2 separate regions of the Homo sapiens genome follow, and region 1 is linked to region 2. Evidence: fine-mapped expression QTL. A gene starts in region 2. The other region holds a variant in brackets. All regions are shown on one strand. Distances are between the middles of the regions.

Region 1 (2,905 bases), 46 kb before region 2:
AGCCTCACTCTGTCGCCCAGGCTGGAGTGCAGTGGCGCGATCTCGGCTCACTGCAACCTCCGCCTCCTGGGTTCAAGCAATTCTCCTGCCTCAGCCTCCCGAGTAGGCTGGGATTACAGGCGCCCGCCACCACACCCGGCTAATTTTTTTTTTTTTTTTTTTTTGTATTTTTAGTAGAGATGGGGTTTCACCATCTTGGCCAGGCTGGTCTTGAACTTCTGACCTCGTGATCCACGCGCCTCGGCCTCCCAAAGTGCTGGGATAGCAGGCATGAGCCACTGGGCCCGGTGGGCCCAGCCAGTAAATGCTAGTATTTTTGTTTGTTTGTTTTTTTGAGACGGAGTTTCACTGTCATCACTCAGGCTGGAGTGCAATCGCTCACTGCAACCTCTGCCTCCCGGGTTCAAGCGATACTCCTGCCTCAGCCTCCTGGGAAGCTGGGATTACAGGCGTCTGCCACCACGCCCGGCTGATTTTTGTATTTAGTAGAGACAGGGTTTCACCATGTTGGCAAGGCTGGTCTTGAACTCCTGACCTCAGGCCTCCCAAAGTGCTCAGGCCTCCCAAAGTGCTCCCAAAGTGACCGAGAACTCCTGCCTCGGCCTCCCAAAGTGCTGGGATTACAGGCATGAGCCACCACGCCTGGACTTTTTTTTAAATTTAAATTTTATTTTTTTTCTGAGACAAGGTCTTACTCTGTCGTCCAGGCTGGTCTTGAACTCCTGGGCTCAAGCGATCCTCCTACCTCTGCCTCCTTAAGTGCAGGGATTACAGGTGTGAGTCACTGTGCACCGGGCACTGCTACTCTGAACACATGTGGCTACATGGAAGACAGGACTTGGCCATGTGCTCTCCCCAGCTCAGTAGTCAAGTGCCTCTCTCCATTTACTGGTAAGAGAGAGAGGGTTTAGAGGAACTCTTGTTCCGGCGCTCAGCTCATTTGCATCCCAGAATGCATTGTAGATACGAGAATTATTACCAGGGTTATCTGTTTGAATAATAATATTTAAACTTTTTTTCTTTGTCAGGAGATTTTACCCAGTGAGAACATGTTTAGGACACTTTTCTACAGTGGAAGAAAAGCTTCTGTCTGCAGGTCCAAAGGCACCGTAAGTAGAGGGAGACCAGTCAATAGCTGGGAAGCCAGGCAAAAGGCTAACAGGCAGATCTCTGGTTTCTCTTCATAACGAATAAATCTTTCGCCTTTTACTAAAGATTTCCGTGGAGAAAAACAACTATGAGTTTATGGTTAAATTTTTTGAAGTCTTGCCTAGGCAAGGCTGAATGTT[C/T]TGTTACTAAAGAGAGACGTGTGGGTGGGGTGTTTCATGCTTTGGGAGGTTGGGGTAGCTCCACAAATGTCACCCAGGTTGTAGCGGAGTGGTGTGGTCGCGGCTCACTACAACCTCCATCTCCCATGCTCAAGCAATCCTCCCACCTCAGCCTCATAAGCCTGTCTAATTTTGTGTACTTTTTGTAGTGCCCGGCCTACTGTCATGTTTTTTTAGCTTCTTGTAAACATTTAGGAAGCTAAATGTTTATAAGATTTTTTTTTTTAAAAGAAAACCTAGTTTTTGACAGTCTGTATCTAATAATTTGGCTGAAGTCTTGTGAGTCTTTCTAGTGTGCTAGTTCCAATTTATAGTGATGACTTTGTGTGCATGATTATCTTATACTTTGGACTGGTCTCATATTTGAAAAATTAAGTGTAGGAAAAACTTAAGAGTTAGGATGATGATACTTTCTTCCAGAGATAGTTTTCTTTTGTTTTTATCAGGTACCTGGGGACACAAACAATTCTGGACTACCTTTGTCCACATTCAACACTTGAGGTTCTCTGGACCACCTGGTAGTTATATAATCCATACAAGACCACCTGAGGGCCGGCTTACTTTTGGCCCACCTTGACCTTGAGGGTACTGTCTTCTGGGGTCCAACTTAAAGTATGTATGCTAGAGGTATCAGACTTCCCACCGAGAGCAGAATCTCAGTGCCTTCTCTTTCTTTTGCCCTTTTTTTGTTTTGTTTTGTTTTGAGATGGAGTTTCACTCTGTCACCCAGGCTGGAGTACAGTGGTACGATCTCGGCTCACTGCAGCTTCCACCTCCTGGGTTCAAGGGATTCTCCTGCCTCAGCCTCCCGAGTAGCTGGGATTACAGGTGCGCACCACCACGCCTGGCTAATTTTTGTATTTTTTAGTAGAGACAGGGTTTCACTATGTTGGCCAGGCTGGTCTTGAACTCCTGACCTCAAGTGATCCACCTGCCTTGGCCTCCGAAAGTGCTGGGATTACAGGTGTGAGCCACCACGCCCGGCCTGAGAAGTCTTCTTTATCTGGCTATTGCTACTCATTCTTCTAGGCTCAGCTGAGAAATCAACTTTCAGGAAGCTGCCCCTGGCCTGCTCTCCTCTGCCTTCACTCTTCACTCAGGAGTAGATGTCCTATGTCTCTGAACCCGTAGCACCGTATAGAATTCTTGCTATAGAATTCTAGTACTATCCACTAAATGGTCTCCTCACTAGTGTGTGAACTCCAATGAACATATCTGACACATCTCACTTCTGTTTACCTAGAGCCTGAAACCATTCCATGTACACAATGCATGCTCCATACATCTTGTTGAAAAGACCTCATTGGATTCTGCATTCCAACAGGCGAGGCTTGGGTCATGGCAGCCTAGGACCACGCTTAGAAACCACCAGCCTGGTGGTGGATGACCCCAGAGGAGGCTCTGCAGTGGCCACTGTGGTCCTCATTCACACAGCTACAGAACTTTCCTAGCTTGAATCTTGGACAGGCTGGAGAGCCAGAACTGTGGCAGCTGTCTCCCCGTATACCCCATGGCCAACTTTTTTTTTTTTTTTTTTTTTTTGAGACAGAGTTTTGCTCTTGTTGCCCAGGCTGGAG
Region 2 (2,905 bases):
ACCACATACTACTACTGATCTTCTTACCATTTTGGACACTTCATCTTGATTACCTTTGCAGGTTCGTCCTCCTTTGCCAGACCCTCAAACTTGGGTGTTTCTCAGGGCTCTGTCCTAGGTCTCTTCTGACTCTACACTTACTCCCTGGGCAAGCTCAACAAATCTATTGGTGTGGCTGGCATCTATAAGGCCCCATAGACTCCCACACTGCAACTTCCAGTTAGACTTATCTGGCGAACTCCAGTTAGGCATATCCAATGGCCTTCTGGATACCTCCACTTGGATGTTCCATTGGCACCCCAAGCTCACCGTGCCCAGAACTGACCCTCTCCTAAAAACCCCTGCTTCCTCTCCTTCCTGTTTGCCCAAACCAGGAATCTAGAAGTCATCCTTCATTTCCCTTACTTCCCCCACACCCAATTAGTAACCAAGTCCATTTTTTTCTAGCTATAAGTGTCTAAGGAATTCATCCTGCCCTTTCCATTTCAGCTGCCACTCCATGCTTTGTGCCACCATAATCCTTCCCCACTACTGAAACAACCTCCTAACTGGTCTCCCTCCTTCTCCCAATCCTCAATCCAGTTCCTGCACTAATGTTTCTTTTTTTTTGAGACAGAGTCGCGCTCTGTCACCCAGGCTGGAGTGCAGTGGAGCAATCTCGGCTCACTGCCACCTCTACCTCCCAGGTTCAAGCCATTCTCCTGCCTCAGCCTCCCAAGTAGCTGGGATTACAGGTGTGCACCACCATGCCCGGCTAATTTTTGTATTTTTAGTAGAGATGGGGTTTCGCCATGTTGGCCAGGCTGGTCTCGAACTCCTGACCTGAAGTGATACGCCCGCCTCAGCCTCCCAAAGTGCTGGGATTACAGGGGTGAGACACCACACTGGGCTCTTTGTTTTGTTTTTTGAGACAGGGTCTCACTCTGTCACCCAGGCTGGAGTGCAGTGGCACAATCATGGCTTACTGCAGCTTTGACCTCCTGACTCAAGTGATCCTCCCACCTCAGCTTTCCAAGTAGCTGGGACTTCAGGCATGCGCTACCATGCCTGGCTAATTTTTAAAATTTTAATTTTGTAGAGATGAAGGTCTCACTATGTTGCCCAGGCTGGTCTTGAACTCCTTCAAGCCATTCTCCCGTCTTGGCCTTCCAAAGTGCTGGGATTACGAGTTTGAGCCACCGCGCCTGGCATGCAAAGAGTCTTTCCCCCTCCCTATCTCTAAAAGTCTTTCAAGGCCCAGCTCAAGAGCCAACCCCACTGCCATAAATGCCCCTTCTCTGATTCTGAGCTCCTCAAATCCTTACTCTTCTGTAGTATTTATCTCACACGCAGAATCAGAGTTGCTTCATGCATGGTTTCTCTCCCTCTCCCGTTAAGACATGGGAGAGGGAGGGCCAAAAGCTTGATTCTCACTAGGGCCTAAGGAACCTTATTTAGCCCACCCAGTCTCTGGCACATAGTATGTAAATATGCTGGCACATAGTATGTAAATATAGATAAATGCAAGAAAGTTGCACTCCCAGCTCCTCGGTGGGCCCTATCAACAGGGCATTCTCTAAAGTCATCAACTGAAGACTGCTTCCCATCCACCCATCCATCCATCCATCCATCCATCCATCCAGAATATGCCTCAACCCCACTGGGTGGAGGTTGGGTCGGCACGCGCCCCCTAGGCCGTTTTGTACGGTTTTATACCTCCAGCCCTCGCAGTTGCGGCTGGTAGAGGATGGCAGAGGTAGGTAGACGATGCAAGTCAAAGGGCACACTCTTCCGCCGCGTAGGATAGGACTCTGTTCGGACGAGTGACCCTGCCCATTCCCAGAATACAGCAACTCTTCAGCCGCCTCTCACCTACATGAGAGGGTGGGGACTCTTCCTGACCGGCGCCCCGGCTGACCAATACCTGATCCAGATCAAGCGAATTAGCCAATGGCTGCGGGTCAGTAATAGGGGCGGGGCATGGTTGCTAGGGCCGAGCTAGTGGGGTGAGGCGAGAGGCTCTGGAAGAGACTCGGTGGTTGCTAAGGCGGGAGGTCACAGAGCGCGGCGCAGGGATTGGGCCGTGTTGGGGGAGGTGTGTGGTGATTGGGCGGCGCCCAGGAGGCGCCCGGGTGAGGCACGGGTGCGCAAGCGGGAGTTCCGGCTGGAGACCCGTGCTCTGGGCCGGCGCCTTCACCATGGCCTCGGCAGAGCTGGACTACACCATCGAGATCCCGGATCAGCCCTGCTGGAGCCAGAGTATGGAATGAGGGTTGGGTCCAGGCGCGGGGAGGTGACCTCATGAACCTGTGGGTTGCGAGCGCAGCTGTAGCCCCGCCCCTCATGCGGCCCCGCCCTCCCTCGGGCCGCCCCCTCATAGGGTCTGGCAGGTCCTAGACTTAGAGAGGCTCAGAGAGCCCCGCCCCTCGTAAGTCCCGCCCCAGAGTGTTCCTCCCTGGCGAGCCCCGCCTCTGCCCGAGTCAGCTGCTCGCTTGGGACCTCTTTTTCTGTCTTTCCTGTCCGGGGTGCTCAGGTCCATGCCCTTTAATCACTTCTCATAGCTGAAGGCTGCCGAAAGCTGGATCCCTCCTGATTCCTTTGTTTGGGATTGGGCTTCCCACATCTAGCCTATCACTTATTATTTTCCCGAAGGCGTGGAGGGGGAGGCTCGCGGGGTCACCGATCCTCGCAGAAGCCCGGGACTCAGAACCCTTAGCCGTCCCTCTCCACTCTTCTCGGCAGTGGTTAACAGTGCAGTCTCTGCCGTCGGGTAGAACTCGACTGAAATCCTGACTCCTTCCTTTAGGAGCTGGATTACCTTTGGTAAGCTACCTTCTCTGAACTTCAGTTTCCTCCTCTGCAAAACCGGGATAAGGATAGTAACCTTCCTCATAGGGCTGTTGGGGCCATCTGGAGATTGTGTAAA

What was found.
Region 1: its variant is fine-mapped to the expression of ARMH1 in whole blood (TOPMed, PIP above 0.99).

Annotation. Positions count from the first base shown.
Region 1 is chr1:44,720,163-44,723,067 of GRCh38, reverse strand. All of the region lies in intron 6 of ARMH1 (armadillo like helical domain containing 1), which reads right to left. RNU5F-1 (RNA, U5F small nuclear 1) reads left to right here and starts at 1,166; the gene lies at 1,166-1,283. LOC105378690 (a long non-coding RNA gene) reads left to right here. Exons shown (of 5, transcript XR_007066059.1): 2 at 1,029-1,109. The variant C/T (reference allele first, on the strand shown) is at 1,290.
Region 2 is chr1:44,673,664-44,676,568 of GRCh38, reverse strand. ARMH1 (armadillo like helical domain containing 1) reads right to left here and starts at 1,855. Exons shown (of 12, transcript NM_001145636.2): 1 at 1,696-1,855. TMEM53 (transmembrane protein 53) reads left to right here and starts at 2,088. Exons shown (of 3, transcript NM_024587.4): 1 at 2,088-2,238. The coding sequence starts at 2,178. RefSeq lists silencers at 1,916-1,965, 2,036-2,085, 2,236-2,375 and an enhancer at 2,143-2,644.